2 separate regions of the Homo sapiens genome follow, and region 1 is linked to region 2. Evidence: fine-mapped expression QTL. A gene starts in region 2. The other region holds a variant in brackets. All regions are shown on one strand. Distances are from middle to middle.

Region 1 (12,092 bases), 26 kb before region 2:
TCCCTGGGTAGAGCAGAAGGAGGGAGAAGACTATTATCCCAGAAATGCAAGTTACAAGTCCTTGAAAAACAAGGCATTCTTGTTATGAGTTCCATTCTCAGAGAATGATGTAATTGGTGTGGGGTGCAACCTGCACCCCTGGTGATTCTAATGTGCAGCCAAGGTTGAGGACCACTGCTCTGGCAATAGGAAAGGTAAATACTATAAAAAATATCCTCCTGAGCCTGGTGTGGTCGTGCACAGCTGCAGTCCCAGATACTTAGGAGGCTGAAGCAGGAGGATGCAGAAGGCCAGAAGTTTGAGGATATGGTGTGCCATGATTGCACCTGTGAACAGCCACTGCACTCCAGCCTGGTGTTAAATAATTAATAGATCTGAGAAAGGCAGCATGAGACAGAATCTGCCTCTTTTTTTTTTTTTTTTTGAGACAGAGTCTGACTCTCACCCAGGCTGGAGTGCAGTGGTGCCACCTCGGGTCACTGCAGCCTCTGCCTCCCGAGTTCATGCGATTCTCCTGCCTCGGCCTCCTGAGTAGCTGAGGTTACAGGCATGCCCCACCATGCCCAACTAATTTTTGTATTTTTAGTAGAGTCAGTGTTCCGCCATGTTGGTCAGGCTGGTCTCAAGCTCCTGACCTCAACTGATCCACCTGCCTTGGCCTCCCAAAGTGTCTCCCAAAGGGATTACAGGCGTGAGCCACTGCATCTGGCCATCTCTTTTTCTTTTGTTTCTCATTTTTATTTAATATTTTAGAATTTAAAGCATTTAATTAAACAAAAACCAACTCATAAATTGGGCAGTCGCCAAACCAAAATAGGTTCAGAGACTCTGCCGCCGCCAGGTGGTGGAAGAAGGTTTATGGACAGAAAAAGGAAAGTGACCTATAGAAAACAGAAGTGAGACACAGAAACAGCCAGATTGGTTACACCTTAATGTTTGTCTTATTTGAACACGGTTTGAACAGTTGGCTGCCTTTGATTGGCCAAAACTAGGTGATTGGCACAAGAGTAGGTTACAGTCTGTTTATGCATCCAGTTAGGCTGCAGTTCATTCTGTATGGAGAAATCTTTAGGCCAAACTTAAAAGACATGAGGAGGTAGCTGTAGGCTATACTTAACAATTCCCCCTTTCTGGTTAGTGGGCAACATAATGAGACTTCATCTCTTAAAAAAAAATCCTTTAATAGGAATAGAACATTGTAGATAAAGAACACTGTAGATTACCTCCCCAATTAAATGACAAAAGGCAGGAAAAATAGGAAGGACAAGTATAGGGTATTATCCTAGAGATTAGAGAGAAAAAAAGGTGAGTCATGAGTTACTCCCACGAAGCTCAGCATCTATTTTATTTTTACTTCTTTGTCCAGGGAAATGCAAAACTTGATTAGAGTTAGGGATGAGCCAGAAGAAAATGTGAAAGGTTGAAAATTAAGAGCAGTTAATAAAGATTAAGAAAGTGGGATTAATCATCAGAAATAAGAAATAAATAAATAAATCAGCCAAAAATATTTATGTACAATGCACTGTGGGGATATACACATAACACATTCTGTTCTCAAATAACTCATAATTTAATTGATGAAATATGAAATACGTGAAAAGTTACTGGTTACAGTATGTGTGGCAGAAGTCAGATGAGGGAGATATCATTTCTGCTGCTGGAGTAATAATAATGCCTTATAAATTATAGTATTTTCTAGTTTTGAATCTTTCATATGATCCTCTTATCTTGTGAAATTTACAGGACAGATTTTTAGTGAAATTACCCAGATACGTTTTATGAATTGAAGCTCAGAAAAGGGAAATAATCTGCCTAGTATCACTCACACAGTAAATGGCAACAGAGGAGTGACCAGCAAGCACACAGGCCTCCTGACCTGGTTCTCTTTGCTACATAACAGAAACAAAGAGGGTTGAGCTGAGCCTTGAATTAGCAAGTGTTGGGCAGAGAGGCCTTGGGAGGAGGGCATTCCAGGAAGGGAAATGGCATGAACCTGTTTGGGAACCAGTGGGTGGGGCCAGGCTGCAGGCTGGAGGTAAGGGCAGATCCTGAGGGGTCTCTGCACCTCAGTTAAGGCATAGGGATTTACACTCAGGCAGAGGGGAGCTATTCAGGATGGCTGCCAAGGAATGTGACATGAGGAAAACAGGATTTTAATGACTAGGAAGAAACTTAGCTACAGATCTGGAGCCTTTGGCTATAAGAACATGTAATGATAGGATGGGTTCTAGAATAACTCTCATATTTCTGGGTTGTTTAGATATAGATTTTGCTTAAAAACTGAAAGAGATCCAGTAAAACAGACGCTTCGTTAGGACTTCTTTTTGACATTTAACTATAAAAAAACAAACGGGAAATGACTTACTTTATAGATGACTCTGTGACATGGCGATGACCACATGCTGGGCCTGTCACAGTGGTTTGCCAGGTAAAATTCAAATGTTTTCAACCTCCCAAAATTATCACTTGCCTATCTCATGGATTGCTGGATGCCAAGAGATAATATATGGAGAACACTTGGCACTGCTTCTCACCAACCATGTTAGCTATTATTATTTTCAAACGTCTAGATATTTTCCCTCTTGATTTATAATTTTCTCTTTTTATCCATGTGGAGTTATGGGACAGAGGTTAAGGTCAGAGACTAGAACTTCACAAACCAGATTTCTGTGATCATGACATAGTCACAAATTCTGAGTCACAGTTTCCTTATCTATAAAATGGAAATGATGATGCTAACCTTAGGAGGTTATTGAAAGGGTTAAATGATGTATTTAGAGTGGTTAGATGTGTAGCAATTTCTCAATAAATGGTGGCTATTGCTTTATTTCATTTTAAACTTGACACCAATATGATAATAATGGCTGGAACAATAATAGCTTGCAAATCTTTCTGGAAATCTCCCATTTACTCTCTGCATATTTGGAGTGACTGGAGGTATTATAAGTTGTAAGAATAGGGTTGGAGGAACACAGTGTGAGAAATGCAGCCCTCCTCCACCATCTTCCTGGGGGCAATCTTTTTTTTTGGTAACTGTGGAATGTTCCATAACTACCAACAGCACATGAAATCAGCTAAGAAAACTGAAAAATGTAAATCATAGTCAAAATCTCAAATTTTACATTCAGATAGAAAATGAAAATAAACTTTTAGATTTTTTTTTTTTTTTTTAAACAGAGTTCACTCTGTTGCTCAGGCTGGAGTGCAGTGGCATGATCTTGGCTCACTGCAAACTTCACCTCCCAGGTTCAAGCGATTCTCATGCCTCAGCCTCCCGAGTAGCTAGGACTACAGGTATGCACCACCACACCCGGCTAATTTTTGTATTTTCTAGTAGAGACAGGGTTTCACCATGTTGGTCAGGCTGGTCTCAAACTCCTGACCTCAAGCAATCTGCCCACCTTGGCTTCCCTAAGTGCTGGGATTATGGGCATGTGCCACCATGTCAAGCCTAGATTTTTATAAAGGTATTGACTAAAAATATTTGTTACTTTCCTTTAAACACACATTTAAAAAGATACTTACATCATAATATACACCTTGACCTGGCCAAGTCAGTGCTTTCTTCTTTGAATCCATGGGAATATCAATCAGTTCATATCTATAAGGATTACCTGAAAATTTCAGGAAAAGCAATAAATAAGAACAGTCTTTTAGAGGATTAATAGGTACAATAAATAGAAATGAGATAATACAAGGTAGAGATGGATGTTGGTGTACATTTTACCTATGTAGTTACAGCTTTAGAGAGATTCAGCTTGCTCTTGAATTCTTTTTATTTTTTATTTTTTTTAAGATAGCGTCTTGCTATGTTTCCCAAGCTGGACTTGAACCCTTGGGCTCAAATGATCTTTCCACGTCAGCCTCCTGAGTAGCTGGGACTACAGGGCAGGGCAGGCCACCACACTTGGCTTGTTGCTCTTGAATTCTTGAGCATGTGCAGGAGCAGCATGTGGGCCACACAGAGTGTGAATGAGTCTTTAACCCTAGTGCTCTCAGTAGTAATAGGAGTCACTAGTACTTCACCTTTCTTCTTAATGAGAGAGATCTTAGGTAAATAGTAAGTGTTCCTGGATCCTCTTTCTGATCTTTTTTTCTGGCCTCTGGGGGCTCAACAAATACATTTCTATATTATCTGTTTTGGCTTTTCTCTGCCTAAATATCAAGTTTTCTGAAACTGAGTTAGTACTTGCTTACCAAAAAGGTATTGAAAGGGAACATCTTAAACAATACAGCTTTTTAGATTTTGTTTTATATCTGATAAGCTTTACCAAACAGCATGGCTCGCTTTGCTCTCGTGATAAGTTTCAAGTTAAAGAATGTTCTGAACACCCATCTTCATATGTAATAAGAACAAGGGCTGGTGTTTATTGAACACTTACCATGTGCCAGTCACTGTACTGTTTTATATACATCATCACATGCAATTTTTAACATTACTATAAGAAAGGTACTGTTATTCCAACTTTAGTGAATAAAGAAATTGAAGCGGAGAGAGAATAAGTGATTTGTCCACATCTCAAAGGTAGAATTCAAACTCAGGCAATCTGATTCTAGAGTCTGCACTCTTAACTTCCTAACTTCTTTCCTTCCTTCCTTCCTTCTTTCCTTCCTCCCTCCCTTCCTCTTTCTCTCTCTCTTCCTTTTCCTCCCTCCCTCCCTCCCTTCGTTGTCTCTCTTTTTTTTTTTTTTTGAGACAGAGTCTCTCTGTCACCCAGGCTGGAGTGCAGTGGCATGATCTCAGCTCACTGTAACCTCTGCCTCCTGGGTTCAAGAGATTCTCATGCCTCAGCCTCCCAATTAGCCGGGACTACAGGCATGCACCACCAGGCCTGGCTAATTTTTGTAGTTTTACTAGAGACAGAGTTTTGCCATATTGCCCAGGCTGGTCTCGAACTCCTGGCCTCAAGTGATCTGCCCACTTTGGCCTCCCAAAGTGCTAGGATTACAGGCATGAGCCACCACACCTGGCCCATGCTTCTTAGTTCTAATAAAGAAGAATTAAAATAAGTGGAAGAGTAGAAACCTAATGCTGTACTAGTTCCTGGAAAGATTTTTTTATAAGGGTTGTTAGAGGATGCTCATCTTTTAAAAATTCCCTAATAGTGACTGAATGGTTGGAGAGAGGTAGAGGCTTGGAAGAGCAGGAAATTAAGATGACAACTTGTTTTTTCAGTCCCTTATGTTACTGCACTGAAAAGTGTTTTTATGGGCTGGCCATGGTGGCTCATGCCTGTAATCCCAGCACTTTGTGAGGCTGAGGCGGGCAGATCACTTGACGTCAGGAGTTCGAGACCAGCCTGGCCAACATGGTGAAACCCTGTCTCTACTAAAAATACAAAAACTAGGTGGGTGGGTGGGTGTGGTGGCACGTGCCTATAGTCCCTGCTACTTGGGAGGCTGAGGCAGGAGAATCACTTGGACCCGGGAAGCAGAGGTTCCAGAAAGTGCCACTGCACTCTAGGCCTGGGCAACAGAGCAAGACTCCGTCTCAAAAAAAAAAAAAAGTGTTGTTATGAATTCAACACATATTTCTGTGATTTCTTGCTAACTATGTGTACTTCAGATAATTTCAGAAATTACTGAATTCAGGATTGAGAAAAAGAAATCTACTTTGACAATTTACGTAACAAAGTCATAAAAATTTTACTTGTTTATGTATCATACTTA[T/C]CATTTCCTTTAGAACATTTATAGTTCTTTTGCATGGCACCATCTCTCCCCACTTCTGCTATAGAGCTAAGCATGGTGCTCGATACTAACAGCCAGTATACTTGATACAGCTTTCACTGCCTTTTTCCAATGCTGCCTAGTCTGAGAGGCAATGGGAAAGTTCAGCATGGTACACACATACTGCAGTCATTATACGCTAGCAGGGTAAGAGAATAACTGCTAACATTTATCTCTGTTATTTGATAAGTAGGTTCTATTAATAATATTCCCATTTTGCAGACTGCGAAGCAGAACAGAGGAGTTCAGAAACTCTCCCATGGACCGCAGGTGAGTAAGTGGCAGATCCAGAATTCTACTCATGCAGTCTGACTCTAGAATCCATGCTCTTACATATTCCACTATGTTAGCTTTCAAAACGTTACTGTCTGCTAATAAGACACCGAGGTTGAGGCTGACGATGGCAATATTCTGTCCTTGCATTTTGGTCCAAATATTCATGTATAGAGGAACTGCAGGATAGGACAATTCTTGAGTCTTTTCTACCTCACCTAAATGCACTCAACAAATATTTGTCTTTGCCTACCATGTATCATTTCTGTCCCTCTCTCAAGTGTTTTCACTCTTTCTCCAGAGGTGGCCTCTCTGTTTACGCACATGTGTAGGACTCCTCAGCAAAGACCGAGGTGTCTAGTGTGGGAGAGATTCGATGACTAGTGTACGGGATTCCTGATAAAACACATTCACAAAGACTCCAAGGTTTGCAGCTGGGAGAACCTGCTCCAGGGTGTTAAGAAGGACTGAACAAACTACTCCCATTGCTTTCTGCATCTTATTTCAATGGGGATCTTTCAATTCTATCACTGCTGCATCCACGTCCAGACTCTGTGATTGATGCAAACACTGTCCCTTGTGCTGATCACCTGGGCTAGGATGAAATTTTTAAAAGCTAAACCGTGAGAGCAGGAAAGAAATAAAAATAGAAAATAGAAGTGGAATAAAAACCACCAATTCTACAACGTTTTGGTTTCTGATTGTAACATGAGAGGCTGTGTCAAGGGGAAAGTTTGGGAGCACCTGCAGAGAGTCTGATTTGATGGGTCCATGGTGGCGCGCCAGCTGATTTGTAAAGTCGCAGCTGTGAACAAGTTTCCTGATCTATTGAGTCACACATTTGTGACTTGAGTCCTTTGTGCTCCTTGCTTTAATTTTATTATTGAAGAAATCCCAATAATAAGAATTAATACAGTTCTGATTCCAGGTCACATTTTACCTCTTGTCTTCAAAACTGTTGAATCATAAGCCTTGGTTGGCACCGTGGGAGGAAAGGGCTGCTGGGTGCGGGCTTTAATGCCCGTGTAGAGGTCCTCAGGTGACGTGAAGGTGGGGAACATGGCGCCGCGACAGATGTGTGTGTGGTAGGGGTGTTCAATTGGATATGGCAAGCAGATCTCTCTAAGATTTATTGAGGAAACAAAACAAAATGAAAAGAACAGAAAGAAGTATGGTTGAAAAAATTAATCATCAAAAATTTATTGGGACCCTTTTTTAAATGGCAGAAACTGTTCTAATGCTGGGGGATAGGACAGTGAGTCAATGTCCCTGTGCTCATGGAATTAGCATTCTCTTGGAATGTATACCACAAAACAGGACATTTTCTTAATTTTGCTAGACAAAACTAAATTTAATTTTAAAATAAATCATGCCCAATTCTTTGTCAGTGAGTAAGTTTCATAACTCGTATAAAAAATATAAAGCAAAAAATAAATGAGTTTTGTGTTTGTAGAATGGTATAGTTGCTTTTAATTACTGTGTCTTATTTTAAGAGGCTCCCAGGAATTGTTTTGGGCATTCTGCTTCAGCAAAGTGATCTCTAACCATCTTTGAATGAACTTTCAACCCAGGCCATCTGTTTCTTTAAGCAATCAATCAACAATCAACAATCAACAAAATATAACCCCTGTTTATATACACAGTACTGCTTCAAAATCAAAAAGCCAAAAACAGCTAGCACACTGAAGGAAAAAATAAACATGTTAAAGAGACCATAGGGATATAATTTTCCTATCATTTGGAGAACTGGCAGAGGTTAAAAAAAAACCATGTGGGAGCTGTCTAAACTAGAAGAAAAGCAAAATTAGGAAGTCCATGGGATAGAGAAATGTTATTCATAACAAGAAAATTAAGCAGAAAAAAGCAAGACCAAGTGTTTATGTGTTGAATTCCTCCCTTCCGCCCTCATCCATATATTGAAATCCTAGTCTCCAGGGCCACATATTGTAACCTTGTATGGAAATAGGGTCATTACAGATATACTTAGTTAAGACCGAGTTATTCCATACTGGAGCAGGGTGGGCCCCTAACCCAAGATGCCTGGTATCCTTTTAGGAAAGGGAAAGTTGGACACAGACAAACACCTGAGGAGGATGCCATGTGAAGATAAGGCAGAGATCGGGATGATGCATCTACAAGCCAAGGAGTGCCAAAGATCACCAGCAAAGCCCAGAAGCCAGGGGAGAGGCACGGGACAGAGTCTCTATCACAGTCCTCAGAAGGAACCAACCCTGCTGAGGTCTTCATCTCAGACTTCCGGCCTCCCACCTTGGAACTTGCCAGGCTACAAGCAGAAAGGTGAATCCAAGAAATATGACCTAACAAAAAGGACTTTACTTTTCAAACTGTTTATGAAGAGAATTTGAAAAGCTCAAGACAAGGGTTCTTCACTTTGTCGTTTTTTAAAAAATAGAAAGACCAAAAAAACCTAGAAGTTAATTTTAATAGCCTTTTGAATAGGTCTTTAGCTGAAACACAATTTTTTAAATGGCAGCTTAATAATTTCTGTTAAGCTTGATAGAGGACTCCTGTGGCACGGAGGATACTGGGTGCTCAGATCTCGGCTTCTAACACCTGTCCCCAATCAAAGGAGTCAGGGTTTCTGGGAGTTATTATTACTATTACTATTATTTTTGAGACAGAGTCTTGCTCTGTCATCCAGGCTGGAGTGCAATGGCAGGATCTCAGCTCACTGCAACCTCCGCCTCCCAGGTTCAAGGGATTCTCCTGCCTCAGCCTCCCAAGTAGCTGGGATTACAGGTGCTCACCACCACACCCAACTAATTTTTTGTATCTGTAGTAGAGATGGGGTTTCACCATGTTGGCCAGGCTGGTCTTGAACTCCTGACCTTGTGATCCACCTGCCTCGGCCTCCCAAAGTGCTGGGATTACAGGCATGAGCCACTGCGCCCGGCCACTCTGGAAGCTATTATATAAGATGAGCCTGGATTATTGCAGAGTGACAGAAAGAAAGGAAATGCTAAAAGGAAAAAAAAAAGAAAGCCAAAACCCCACGATGATGGGGAAATGTCAAAAGAATATAGGAGCGAACTCAAAGAGCTCCTCATTGCCAATCTTAGTAACAAAAGAAAGTGGTATTGGATTGCTACCTAAGTACTAAAGCACAAAATAAATTTCCATGAGTCTATACTGAGAGAAATAAGTGATTGAATAAATAAACAAATGGAGTGGAATCGATACATCTCCCATGTAGAATGCCAAATAATTTATGCAGGTAGTCTGCTTTCAAGAAGGTGGAGTATAAATCCAGATGCCTTAAGTGTGGGCTGCACACAGACACACAGAGAACTTCTTCTAGAGTGCAGTGTGGAAAGGAGGAAAGAAAGAGTGTGTGTGCAGCGGGGAAACCTGCTGAGGACACCTCTGCCGGGCAGTCAGGGTTAACATCACCAGGGATAGATCATGCCAACGGCATGTACCCTTGCTACGATGCGATGAAAACAGAACTTTATCTCTGTGGTCTTCCTTCCACAAATACATCATCCCAGTCTAACCATAAGAAAAATGTCAGTCAAAGCCCAATTTGGGGGCATTCTACAAAATATCTAACCAATAATCCTAAAAATTGTCAAGGTCATTAAAACAAGGGAAGTCTGAGAAACTGTCACAGCCAAGAGGAACCTAAGGAGAGATGGTGACTGAATGTAATGCGGTACTCTGGATGGGATCCTGGGACAGAAGAAGGACATGAAGGAAAAACTGAGGAAATCTGGATAAAGCATGGATTTTGGGTCACAGTGATGCATCAGCAATGTTTCATTAATTGTGACAAATGTGCCATATTAATGTGAGATGTTAACAATAGGGGAAGCTGCGTGTGATGTATATGGGAACTCTCCACACTATCTTCTAATAATTCTATAAACCTAAAATTATACGAAAATAAAACATTTACTAAAAAAGATTTTCAGGGGATATAACAGGAGAGAAATCAAAGTAATGTTACCCTGGACTTGTACCAGCCTTTCCTTCCAACTGTTAAGACATAGTTTTCAGGCCAGGCACTGTGGCTCACGCCTGTGATCCAGTACTTTGGGAGGCCGAGGTGGGCGGATCACTTGAGCCCAGGGGTTCAAGACCAGCCTGGGCAACATAGCAAGAACCCATCTCTACAAAAATTACAAAAATTAGCCAGGCATAGTGGTGCACACCTGTAGTCCCAGCTACTTGGGAGGTGAAGGTGGAAGGATCACCTCATCCCAGGGAGGTCAAGGCTGCAGTGAGCTGTGATGGCACTACTGTACTCCAGCCTGGGCGACAAAGTGAGACTCTGTCTCAAAAAAAAAAAAAAAAAAAAGAAACGTTTTCATGGGAAGTCTCACTTGTTTTCACACTTCTAAGACATAGGAAATGTCAATTTTTTTTTCTTTGATTATAACAGAGAAGGAAAATATAAGTTATTTACTTACCCTACTGTTGAATTAGGCGGCTTGGGTATCCTAGAATAAAAACAGGAAACAAGTTCTAACTTATATTGAGGGCTTTTAAAGGTTTATATCCCTATTAGAAACTTGATTAATGATATAGGCTGGGCATGGTGGCTCATGCCTGTAATCCCAGCACTTTGGGAGGCCAAGGTGGGCGGATCGCTTGAGCTCAGGAGTTCGAGACCAGCCTGGGCAACATACAAAATAGAAAAATACCAAAAATACCAAAAATACAAAAAAAATTAGCTAGGCATGGTGGTGCATGCCTGTAATCCCAGCTACTCAGGATTACCCAGGAGGTGGAGGTTGCTGGGTGACAGAGCAAAAGTCTGTCTCAAAAAAAAAAAAAATAATAATAATGATATACCCCATTTTCAAACTGTAATGTCATTAAGATAATGTTCTTGATTAACTTTCTGGATTCCTGAATATTGACAAGACAGGCATATGTTGTTTCCTTATCTCAGTTGTCTGTTGATTAATTTTTCCATCCATTTATTCTAACCTCACCACTGTTTCTGCATTTTCCATTTGTGGTGAAGATACAAGGGATGACTACTTCTAATGATAAGAGAGCTCTGGTTCTTTCTGACCTTTACTCTCATAGTCAGGCAGTAGCCAGAGTGCTCTGAGGAAGCCTGACGTTATACATGGGGTGCAATTTCATAGCCTAAAGTGACGCGAGTGTGGCCCAGCTGGAGAGGATATTTAAGTACCATGTATGCTTTCTACCTTTGCTCTGTGTTGCTGATCTCTCATGATAGTAAATGTTGCCCGGTCAGCAGAGGGAATAGAACAAAACTGACCAAGTTCCTGGAAGCATGCCTTTTCTGAAGCAGTTCATTCCAAGGCTGTGCATTTACTAATTACTCCGAACCTTGCATGCCAAGAAATAATCCTGTAGCCCTGGAAAAAAGTCGACTAAAGACGGGTAATCATCCACCTACATTGGATTTCAACAATTCGTTTCAGCCTATGCAAATAAAATTCTGAAAGATTCCAGGTGTGAAAAATGAACAGAATGTTATCAATTTGATAGTAAAAGTCAGTAAAATTGAATACACTGTTTAATTTTTTAGATGTTCCTCCATGCTAGCAGATACTCCCTAGAAAGTGGCATGTAAGCCATATAAATTTATTATCCTGTAATGTATTATAAACACCTGACTCTCATGAACTATAAAAGTTTATATCTTTTTAAATTTCAACTCTAAATCTGTGGGCACGAAACTAAAAAAAGCATGTTCTATCTTCCATCAACATCACTGAGTTGGAAAGATGGTGGGGGCACAAAGGGCAGGGAAGTGATGAATATATGAATCCAAGGAATCTAGAGTTGTTATTAATAGATTGGCAACTATATATAATACATTAAGCTAGCATCTAAAATTATTCTTATGTGACAAATTCCACTACAATATTGATAAGCATATGCCTAAAAGCATATGCCATTTTGATTTGATTCGAAATGAAAAAAAAAAATAAATTTAAAATATAAAATCTTTTTTAAAACTTCAAGATCTGAAAAGATAAAATGAAAGTAACAAATGCTGAGACACCTCTTCCTTGACCTAAATCAGCCCATTAATTTTACTGCCACCCTTCACATCTGCTTTGCAAAAATCACCAAAGGGATAAACCGAG
Region 2 (12,092 bases):
ATATCTAAGTTTGTAAAAGTTACATTCAAAACCTAAATGAGTCAATTTCTCAACATCTGACCCCCGTATATTACATCGTCCCCAGAAGATGAGCCGGTAGAAAATGCTAATCAATCATTTGGGCTGGCATCCACCTAAAGCTGGAAAGTTGCAGGAAATCATTTAAAATAAAAGACAATGCATAAATAAGTCATATTTCCCTCTTACTTTAAGGTATCATGTCTCCCTCCCCTTAGCCTTAATACTCACAGAATTGTAGAGAAGGAACCAAATTAAAATAAAAATTGACATTTTAGGATGTAATAATTTAGGATTTCATGATAGGATTTCATTATAGGCTCCCATTTGTTTCTGGATTCACTTCATTGCTTTCTGATTCTTAAACATTTTTAAAAAATGATAGTTATCTGCCAACTCCAAATGAGGGCTATGTTTTAATAATTTTAATGAAATTTTAAACCTTTCTCTTTCCCCCTCTCTCTCCGTCTCCCTTTCTCTCTCTCCCTCTTTTCCTCCCCCTCTCTCTCACTGTCTCTCTCACTCTCTCTCCATGTCTCTCTCCCTCTCTCTCCCTTTCTGCTAGCCCAGTAGTTCTCAATGTAAATAAAATACATCTCTATAACAAAGAGAATAATTATCAAATTATTGGTGCTACCATCTCTAGCGATAGAAAATTGTTTACTTGTTTTTGAAAAGGACACATTCCCTATAGATGAGCCAGTATTTCATTTTAAAGTCACTGTACAAGATTTTATGCATCAAACCCCAAATTCAGTAATTTAGCCAGTAACTACTAGGAGGCGTGACTAGAGAAAAGCTCGAGATAAACATGACCCGCATTTTTAGTTGGCAGATAACTATTATTTAAAAAAATGTTTTAAGAGTCGGACAACAGCAAAGTGAATCCAGAAACAAAATGGGAACTGATAATGAAATTCTATAATGAAATCCTATTATATAATGAAATCCTAAGCAATTCTCAAGGCACTTCCTTAATGGATATGTTTGTTTGCCCTGTGAGCTGAGAGAACTTGCTAGAAGTTAAGGAGAAGTCAGCTGAATGAAAAAGAGGATAGGAATCTTGATGATTTTGAGTAGCTGTTCCTGCCAGTTAAATTTTCAACAGAAGAAATGAGAAAAAATTACCACCTGTTTATATACTTAATATTTTTAATGGAGATCAAGCAAGTTTATATAAAATAGTGGCTAGCATAATTGTCCCAAAAAATCCACTTGAGTAAAGTAATTAAAGTGTAGCAACTAACTTGCTCTTGGTCATCAGGTAAGCCAGATCCATAGTCCTGGTTTTCTTATATTTTCAGTGCTGCTAGCCCAGTAGTTCTCAATGTAAGCTGAAAAACTAAAAAATGCAGATTCCCTTGCACCCCCTCAGACCTGGGGAGTCAGAATGTCCATATATAGAGGCAGCCTGGGAATCTGTTTTTCTAGAAAGCTCCTCAGGTGATTTTGAAGTACCCTGTCTGTAGACCAGTCCTGGGTAACAGGGGAGCTAGGCCGTGTCACCTATTTTTGTATTGTTTTATTTTGTTTTGATTTTTGAGAAAGAGTCTCGCTCTGTTGCCCAGTCTGGAGTGCTGTGGTGTGATCTTGGCATACTACAACCTCTGCCTCTAGGCTCAAGTGATCCTCCCACCTCAGCCTCCCAAGTAGCTGGGACCTACAGGTGTGAGCCACCACACCTGGCTAATTTTTGTATTCACCTCACCTATTGTGAAAAGAAAAAAAAAGTAGGCTGATGTGAGGAAATCGTTTTGCGTCACTGTTAAAACTGCCAAGTGAGTGCCATGATGGCTGCATCTAGGTTGTAGGTATGGCCTACATGATCTAAGTTGTACCTGGATACATCATGATATTGAAAAAGGGTGTCCCTTTAAGTACATCTGTGTTTAGAAAATTAAGCTGCTGAGTGCAAACGTATGCTAGGGCTCACGTTCACCCTTACCATTATGAAGGTAATCCTGAAAAACCAGGGGCTTTCTGTTTTGTATTGTTTTATTTTGCTGTTGAGATACCTTGTGATTCAAATTGGGAGCCACGGACCCTGCACTTGGTCTGAAGAAGTGAGGCTCAGCAATGATAGAACAGAGTTACCACCAGTATCCTGTTATCACCGTCCAGAGCCGTTCCATCACTAACACTGAGAGGAAAGACACTCTTTTGTAAGCTGTCTGGCTGCTTTTTAAGAGGGGGTTAAGAGGAGGGGTTCTGAGAACACATGATCATCCTGGTTTTCTTAATCTGGTGATTGTGAAAGGAAAGAATTCACGTGAAATAAAAGGGAAAGCAAGTTGTAGTTATTAGGAGCCAGGAGCATGGTTATACCTAGATAGAGCTTCAAATAATACCTTTTTGTAGTTTATAGTTGGCCATATATCGTGTTGAATTTTATAGTCAGTTAACAAAAAACGTGCTTCTCTTAAATTTCATGCCAGTTAAGGGTTTTGGAGCTGATCACTAACCAACTATAGGACCGTTTAGGTAGAGGGGATCAACATTTCAGTGAAAAGCCTTTGACAGTGCTTTTTGATGGTGCATTCAGATATGGCAGCCCTAAATTCTTGGATTCCTTTAGGCCAAATATAAAACCTCACATTGCTGTTTTTGAGCCAGGGACAACTGCCCATTCCCAGATCACACACAATCCACTAAGGGTTTTATTTGACTCAAGGGAAGCTCTGCCTAATGTGATAACCCTTGGAGTTGAACAGGAATTTAGGGCTGAAAACCACTCTTGTGAATCAGGTCAATGGTAGAGGAGTAGGGGCAGCAAGGACTGACCCAGAAGTGACAAGAGCTCCTTTTCCTCCAATACAAGAATATTTCTTTTCATTAAGTGAAAATAGCAATTGATTTAAAAAATGTTGAATATGATCTTTACATTTAAAAAAATTGGAGAGGACACATATTAAGATGTTAACACAGTGGTTATTATCTCTGGATAAAGGAAATATAGAGGGCTTCTTTCCTGTGCTTCATTTTCATAATTTTTCTGTTGGAAAAATAAAGAATTTGTTTTCCTTACAAATTTCTATGATTTCTACATTATGAGGAATGTGTGTTAGTTTTATAATTACGGAAAAATCATTCTTTTTCTTTATTAGTATAAAGAGCATGTTTGTAAACCGGAGAAGATCTGTGGAAGTCTGATCGAGATGGTGAAAGGCTAAGCGCAAGAAGAAAAAGGAGCTGAATCTGTGAGAATCAGTGTTTAGTCTGGCAAACAGAATTCTCACATGGGACAAGAGAATCTTCAGATCTTGAAGGGCTGCTAGCATGGGATGATGAATGACTATTCTGCATAGCTTCAGAGGGAAGAACCAGAATCAGCAGGCAGAAATTACAAGGGAAAAATTGTTCACATTAGAAAGAAAATGATCTAACAATCAGGAGCATTCAAAAATGGAATGGACTGCCTGGTGTGGAAGTGCTATCCTTTTTGGAAGAGTTTAAACTGAGGCTGGGTGACTTCCCGTCTGGTTTCCTAGAGAATTCTTAAATGATTGGGAGGCTGAGGCGGATGGATCACGAGGTCAGGAGATCGAGACCATCCTGGCCAACATAGTGAAACCCCATTTCTACTAAAAATACAAAAGAATTAGCTGGGCGAGGTGGTGTGTGCCTGTAGTCCCAGCTACTCAGGAGGCTGAGGCAGGAGAATTGCTTGAACCCAGGAGGCGGAGGTTGCAGTAAGCCGAGATTGTGCCACTGCACTCCAGCCTGGCAACAGAGTGAGACTCCGTCTAATAAAAAAAAAACAAAAAAACAAAAAACACAAAACAAGTAGACAACCACTCAGGCTATTTTTTCACTGTCCAGGTGTTTTGAGGTGTTTTTTCCTTTTCCTTTTCTCAAAATGATTCAAGTAAATACAATACAGGAAATGCTGACACTAAGATCTTGGCAAATTACTTGTGTGTATCTGTTATTTCATATGTAAAATGCAGATAACAGTAGTACTTATAGGGTTGTCATGAGGATTAAAAGAATTACTACATACAAAGCATTTGGTAGAGTGCTGACACACAGTAATCACTAGATAGGTGCAATTATTTTCATTGTAATTTTTTTTTTTAAACTTTTTTTCTAGGTTCAGGGGGACATATGCAGGTTCATTATACAGGTAAATTGCATGTTGCAGTGGTTCAGTGTACAAATTATTTTGTCACCCAGGTGATAAGCATAGTACCCAAGAGGTAGTTTTCTGATCCTCACCTTCCTCCCTCTCTCCACCCTCAAGTAGGCCTTGGTGTCTGTGGTTCCCTTCTTTGTCTCCATGTGTACTCAATGTTTAGCTCCCACTTATAAGTCAGAATAGGTGATATTTGGTTTTCTGTTCCCGTGTTAGTTTGCTTTAGAATAATGGCCTCCAGCTCCATCCACGTTGCTGCAAAGGACATGATCTCGTTTTTTTATGGCTGCATAGTATTCCATGGTGTATATGTACCATGTTTTCTTTATCCAGTCAACCACTGATGGTCATTTATGCTGATTCCATGTCTTTGCTATTGTGAATAGTGCTGTGATGAACATACTTGTGCATGTGTCTTTATGGTAGAACAACTTATATTCCTTTGATAGAACAACTTATAAGAACAACTTAGAATCCAATAATGGGATTGCTGGGTCAAATGGTAATTCTGTTTTGAGTTCTTTGAGAAATCACCAAACTGCTTTTCATAAATTAAATCATAATGTATAATTAATGTGTTACAGGGAATTTGGTGAAGCAAAAATTTACACAAGTATAAGCAGCAAATTCTGGGAGTATTTTTGGGCAGATGGTAGAAGGGCATGTTAGGGAACCAATACAGTACTATTTATAAAAGTCTTTGCTTACAACATATTAATTTCCCAATGAAGGAACGGACCATTCTAAGATTTTAGAATGTAGTGGATGAATTTGATGTGTGGCTTTTATAGTAGACAGCCACTTACTTCTCGAGTTCCTTACAGACACTTGAAGGTTCAGATAATTGCCACGTTTTGCCTTCCCTATTATATGATAAGCAGAAGAGCCCCGGCCCGGCGCAGTGGTCACGCCTGTAATCCCAGCACTTTGGGAGGCCGAGGTGGGTGGATCATTTGAGGTCAGGAGTTTGAGAACAGCCTGGCCAACATAGTGAAACCCTGTCTCTACTAAAAATGCAAAAATATTAGCTGGGCATGGTGGTGCATGCCTGTAATCCCAGCTACTCTGGAGGGTGAGGCAGGAGAATCACCTGAACCTGGGAGGCAGAGGTCCCAGTGAGCCGAGATCGCACCACTACACTCCAGCCTGGGCGACAGAGCGAGACACCGTCTCAAAAACAAACAAACAAACAAACAAACAAGAAACAGAAGAGCCCCAGAACAATAAATGTTTTTCCTCACATAATAAAATACACGAATACATTAAAACTGCTTTTTCTTGTTTGCTTTTTCTAGTTTTTGTTTTACCTGTCCTCTGAGGCAGTTGGGCGAGTAACCGTCTGGAGGGGGTTGTGCAATTCATTAGAGTAAAAGGTGTTGGACAGTATGTCAGCTCCTTCAAGCTCCCTGCAACAGTAGGGCCTGCCGTGAATGACTTCCATGCTTCTTGGCTAAAAAGGCACAACCTGGAAAAGAAAAGGAGGGCACATTTGGCTTGTCGAGTCAAGGCAGGCAGAAAACACATTTTACACTGCTAAATTGTTCAACCTGACGCTGCACAGACGTCACAGGCTTCCCTCTGCACTGAAAGCCGTCAAATCAGTAATAAATAGAGACCTAAATAAGTTCTATGGAAATAAATTTCAACTGAAACAAATCCACAAAGTGGACGGTGCCTCCAAGTAGTCACCAGAATGATCATCCAGTAGGTTCGTACCAGTCCGCTACTTTGTGGCCATCAACTGACATTCAATTCCTGCCTTAAATTTAACTATAACTATTCAAGAAAACTCACTTGACTTTTAGCCTGTGGTCTTTCCGAAAATTAGAGACTCTTCATTCAACAAAATAAGCGCTGTCCTAAAGCCTTCGGGGATTCTGGACAAGAATCCCTTTGCAGATGGTGGAGTCAGTAGTGCAGCACGAACGGGACCCTAAAGGGGATTCCCGGTTTCCAACTGCGTCGGGGAGAATCCCACCTCTCTCTCGGACTTGGGGGAAGGCCAGGAGCCGGCGTAGCTGGGACCAAGGGTGCCAGGGGTCGAGGCCGAGCCTCACGGGCTGTCACTGCCCTGCAAGCGGTGCCTCGGGGGTCTGGACATACCTGGGACATGAGCCTGGGGGCGCTGCGGGACCGCGCCTCCCCTCCCCTCCCCGCAGCTGGCGGCCTTCGCGGGCCGAGGAATTTTGAGGTCGTCCGCACCTACGGCCCGGTGGAGCTGGCAGGCAGGGGCGGGGGCGGGAGAAGGACGGCGGGCAGGCCGGGGTGGGGTGGGGCTGGGGGCGCTTGTGACGGTGGCCGTGACCGCGGCATTAGGTGATGCGTCCTTGAGGGGCTGGGGGCTTCCGGGCGGCGAGCGGGGCGCAGTAGGAGGCTCTTAGAGACCTCGGAGGAAACCAGCCCAGCGCTACGGGACTGGCAAGAATGCGAAGAGGAACCGAGAGTGAACGGAGTGCGAGGCGCCGGGTCGGAGGCGAGAGGGGCTCTTCCGCCTTGCGACCCCTGGCCCCGCCTCCCGGTCCCTTGCCCCGCCCCTCTCGGCTCACCGCCCTGCCTCCAGTCGGACCCCGCCTTGCCCCACCCGCGCCCCGCCCCCAGGCGCCCTCTAGCGGCGGCGGCGATGGCGATACCAGTTTCTTTTTCCAGGGCTACCAGGTCTGGAGCTGTCTCAGGGCCGGCCAGGGAGCTCTCTCATGTGGACTGGGCGGAGGAGGAAGAGCTCCGGTCCAGTGGAGTCCCTGGTGAGGTCGGAGCATCCGACCTGTCCTCCCTCCCCAGGTCACCTCGCAAAAATTGGGGACAGTGTGGCCAGATAGAGGGTGGAGTCTGCAGGATTCTGAAACTGCAGCCCCTGGCATGGCGCCCTAACAGAGTCTCTGCTCCTTCCCTGGTGGGTGCGGACATGGCAAAGTCCTTTACTTGCCTCGTCCCCAGGGCCTAGCCCCACCTTGATTACCTCAGTTTTCCCCAAAAGATACAAATGTGAGCCATGAATCTGCACCTACAGGGTCATGAGTTCCTGTGATGGCTGACAATAAGGGATGTCACCCCCCCCTCGCCACCTGCCACCCCATCAAGGAATGGGATGTGAGGAGGTTAGGTTGTGTGTATATGTGTGATATGGTTAGGCTTTGTGTCCCCACTCAAATCTCATCTTGAATTGTAATACCCATAATCCCCGCTTGTCAAAGGAGAGACCAGGTGGAAGTAATTGGATCATGGGGGCAGTTTCCCCCATGCTGTTCTCGTAATAGCGAGTGAATTCTCACGAGATCTGATGGTTTTATAAGAGGCTCTTCTCCCTTCTCCCAGCACTTTTCCTTCCTGCCCCCTTGTGGAGAAGGTAACTGCTTCTCCGTGGCCTTCTGCCATGATTGTAAGTTTCCTGAGGCCTCCGCAGCCATGTGAGATTGTGAGTCAACTAAACCTCCTTCGTTTATAAATTACCCAGTCTTGGGCAGTTCTTTACAGCATTGTGAGAAAAGACTAATACAGTGTGGGAGGCTAGAAATGAGCCTGCAGGAACCAGAAGGTGAGGGTGAGAATGACCACCTCTGAGAAGAAGGGCGTTGAAACTGTGTGCCAAAGAGTTAAAGAAAACAGTCATAGAAATTCTTGAGTTTACAGGATGGCAGATAAAAGAAACAAATTGCTGAAATGCTGAAATGCCTGGGCTTGTAGGTTAATAAAACTGGCTGAAATCCACTGGAACATATAAGGCCAACTAGAGTCTGCACAGATCCAGCTTGCTGACCTTACAGCTGAATTTCTACTGCCATGTTTCATACTAACTCCTCACTGAATTTGCACGTGGAACCCTTAGGTAGCATGAAGAAATAAGAGCACATGCGCAAGGACTTTCCAGACTTCCTCTTTCCTTCCACCAAGCACCTGCTAATCCCAGAATCCACACTCAAAACCATTTCTAATAAAATAATTGTCCTAAAGCCAGCACAGGGAGACAGATTTGAGCTGGACTTCCTATTTCTTTGTTGGTTGACATGCAATAAAAGTTTTTATTTTATCAAAAACCCAGTGTTATAGTATTGACTTCTAGTGCCTCGGGCAGCGAGCCTCCTTTGCTTGGTAACAGTATGATGGTGCCTTTGCTATTCTCTGCCTACTTTACAACTTTCTACTAACCAACCAGTGGGCATTCATTTTGTGCTGTGCCTTCTATGTGAGTGTTACCTGGAGTGGGGGAAGAAAGGTGTATTGAAGTAGGCACAGTGGTAATTTTGTAGTCTTGGTTTATTTCTTAGTTCCTGCACCTCTGCCGACCTTCCAGTAGTTACCACCCACTAAGCCTAGAGGAATAGATCCTGCTGGAGACAGAGTTGTGTATTAGGTGAAACTGGCTTTTATCTTTGACATCTTTATTTCCCCTCCAATTTCTGGTAGTTCATTGTAAGCTTTTGCCCCTTTTCTGCTCCTCTGTGTTCAGGATCTCCCATTAAATTCCTTGTCTCCCCAGCCCATTTCATGTCCCCAGTCTTCCAGTACTTTCTATACTTCACCTTTTTCTCATCCTCAACCTTAGTCCTATTTTCCCATGGCTTGATTCTTCCTGGGAGGAATAACTGAGCATGATAGATTTAATCAGAGGCATCTGATGAAGATGCATCACTAGCCATGTATGTACATGGATGGTAGTGACACCGGAGAAAGTGTGTCAACTCCAGGTTGAATGATCAGGATATGCCATGTGATAGCCTCCAGGTTCTAGGGGATTTGAAATTTTATTTTAGGTCAGATGAGTGTAAAAGGCAGATAAATGTAATTATTTTTATCTTTATCGTTTTTCAAATAAAATGTACCGGCAAGAAAAATTCATTGTCAGATCGTTGTAAAACAATTGTTTTCTTTGAAAATGCTTCTCCATCTGAAATTTTCAGGGATATCAGGATTGGGTCTATTTGTTTGACCAACACTCGTTACTCTTAGCTTTTGTGATTTAACTCACTCCATCTCAGCCAGGATGTGATCTCAACAACACAAAGTAGCCTCCTACCCAGGGATGCTCAAGTGACGAATTTCTTAGGTATAACATGGCCAGGGGGCCAGTAGCCTCAGATTGCCTTCTTTTGACTTCTCACATGTTGATCTTGTCACCACCTCATTTTGCTAGTAATCCTTCAAGCAGGGAAGATGAAATTTGGCAATGAAAATAATATATGCTTAGAATACTGTGGGTTGATGACAATTCCAAATCACAGTTAGACCTTTCACCTTCAGGTAAAGAATAAGTAGGAGGTAGATAATAACATAAAGCATGAATTACAGTCTATAACCTTTCTTTTAAGTCTGTTATAGAGACCAGTAAAATGAATGAAGAGACCAGGAACATGATTTTTTTTTTCTTTTTGAAACAGAGTCTCTGTTGCCCAGGCTGGAGTACAATGGTGTGATTTTGGCTCACTGCAACCTCCGCCTCCCCGGTTCAAACAATTCTCCTGCCTCAGCCTCCCAAGTAGTTGGGATTACGAGTGCTCGCCACCACGCCTGGCTAATTTTTTGTATTTTTAGTAGAGACGGGGTTTTGCCATATTGGCTAGGCTGGTCTCAGACTCCTGACCTTAGGTGATCCGTCTGCTTTGGCCTCCCAAAGTGCTGGGATTACAGGCGTGAGTCATGCACCCGGCCCAGTGAATATTTTTTACATGAAAAAACAATTTGGAGTCTGGTGCCTTGCTTAGAAGATGTGTTGGAAAGTGTCTCAGTAACGTTAAAATATGCATCTTTAAAAATTGAAAAACTTAAAGCCTTGTTGATTTCAGTATATGTATCTTCTTAGTAGGATGACAATTAAAAGTATGTATATTCTGCTGACTTTAAACTACAAATGAGTTAAATTACACTTTAATACTTTTTTGGTACTAAATAATTTAACCTAAGTTCAGTACTTTAAATTCTTCTCAAAACATATTTTCTTTCTTTCATAGTTGTTTATTATAAAAACGCAATCAGCTTTTTTGTGGGTGTCATTTCAATTTTTTTCTTGAAGAGGGTTATTTTTAAAGAGCATTGTAATCTCAACAGTCTTTATGGTTGTAGTCATGTCAACTATGATCAATTGAATAAGCCTAGAAATGTAATGTGCAGCACAAGGATTATAATATTCATAATATTGTATTGCATACTAAAATTTTTCTAAGAATGTAGATTTTAGATGTTCTCCTCCTCCAATAAAAAATTTACTGTGTGAAAAACAATAATAATTTTTTTTTTGCCTTGAGTAGCTAAGGAACTAGGTGGTCATTTAGTAGTGAACACTGAAGTGACGTTGATGCACACATTTATAAAATGTGCTATTTAGTAAACAGTTACCTAGAATGCATCAGGGGTTGTCCTAGCACCTACAATCTATGGGGACATGGAGCCATGGAGAGTCATAATCAGTGAGGTAAGTGCTCGACTGGGGCCAGCACTCTTGCTGTAGGGGTCCATGGTCACCTAACCAAGACTCTTGTGCTTCTGATATCATTCCCTTGGAAATGTCTGAAAAGCAATGTAAGGTTCTTCTATTTAGAAACATGATCATCAGGACCCTTTAGCGAGGTGACCCGGCCATGTGCCCTTGGTTACATGCAGTTGTTTGTCCTTGTGGCCTCCCTGGCATCTTTCCTTTTATCTTTCTTTGCATCTTCCTACATGGATATTCTAACATTTTGTCCCATGAATTTGAGTTCCTTCTGGGTAGCCTTTTTCTCTCTAATCTTAAACCTCTGCTCAGAAGACTCAGTGGTCAGTCTCTATTCCTCTGTCATGATTCAATGCTTTGAACTATGACCTATATACAGATGGCCCCATGTGCTATCCCTACTGCCTGGTTGAGTGAAGTTATGTAGAATATGTTTTCCACATATGTATTAAGTTCCACTACTTAAGTTTCTTCTTCACTGATCCACACACACAAATATGGATGAAACGTGTATTCGATAGAGAGGGTGGGCATGGCACTTCTAGATGCAACTGACAGGAAGACATGCTGTCCCCCGGGGGCTCCAGCTGATGAGGACAGTCCGGGAGCATCCTGTGGTGTCACATTCTGTACTCAGGGCATGGTGATACCTAGTCAGGGAGGGAAGATGCGGTAAGTACCCAGCATCTTCATCGCCTCCTCCCTCACCACTCGCTCTGTAACCCCAGCCACCGGGGACTCCTTCTCCATTTCCATAAACCTGACATTTCCAGAATGTCATGTCAACTGAATCATACAACAGGGAGCCCTTTGGGATTGGCTTTTCTTGCTCATCATAACTCTCTGGGGATGCATCCAGGGTGCGGCTGGGGTCAGTAGTTCCTTCCTTTTCGCTGCTGACTTGTGTTCCATGGTACAGATGTTCCACAATTTCTTTATTCATCCATGGGAAGAAATGAGGTTGTTTCCAGTTTTGTGATTATTATTATGAGTAACACTGTGGTACACATTTCTGGACAGTTTTTGTGTGAACATTAGTTTTCATTTTTCTGGCTCAAATTTGACTGCTGGGTCATATGGTACTTAGAAAATTATCACTTCCCCAGGTCTTTTCTTGAAACAAAATATTTAAGATAAATATTCTTTAAAGAGATAGGCAGCAAAGGTGGAAAACATTTTCTCTTTTTTTCATTGTGAAATTGTAAACATTCACAGTTGTATGTGGGCGTTTTTTGTAGGAAAATCAACCCATTGAAAGAGATAAAATACCCCTTTCCTCTCTTTTTCCTGTCTCTTACATCTCCCTTACCACTTCTGTCTTTTTAAAACACCTTGTAGATTCACCAGACCAGAGTACTTGGGTAGCAGTGCCAAGATCAAGCACAGTGATTGCCATAAGTAACAGGAGTTCACGAATCAGCTCACCATGAAGAAACTGCCCATTGTAGACTGTTCCTATCTCAAAATAGTTGGCTTTCCAGAAAGCCAACTCTAGTGGCAGACTCGGTTTTTAGCCCACAG

What was found.
Region 1: its variant is fine-mapped to the expression of SPMIP4 in whole blood (INTERVAL, PIP above 0.99). The same link has a PIP of 0.9 or more in blood mononuclear cells, lung, monocytes, nasal epithelium and tibial nerve.

What each region holds. Positions count from the first base shown.
Region 1 is chr7:25,148,071-25,160,162 of GRCh38, forward strand. SPMIP4 (sperm microtubule inner protein 4) reads right to left here. Exons shown (of 10, transcript NM_138811.4): 5 at 10,431-10,460; 6 at 6,941-7,122; 7 at 3,526-3,614. LOC124901603 (a long non-coding RNA gene) reads left to right here and starts at 5,948. Exons shown (of 3, transcript XR_007060261.1): 1 at 5,948-5,997. The variant T/C (reference allele first, on the strand shown) is at 5,671.
Region 2 is chr7:25,173,718-25,185,809 of GRCh38, forward strand. It overlaps SPMIP4 (sperm microtubule inner protein 4), which reads right to left and starts at 6,637. Exons shown (of 10, transcript NM_138811.4): 1 at 5,945-6,637; 2 at 5,458-5,615. The coding sequence starts at 5,591. All of the region lies in intron 1 of LOC124901603 (a long non-coding RNA gene), which reads left to right. LOC124901602 (a long non-coding RNA gene) reads left to right here and starts at 2,097. Exons shown (of 2, transcript XR_007060260.1): 1 at 2,097-2,180; 2 at 3,123-3,914. RefSeq lists silencers at 6,143-6,422, 6,483-6,872.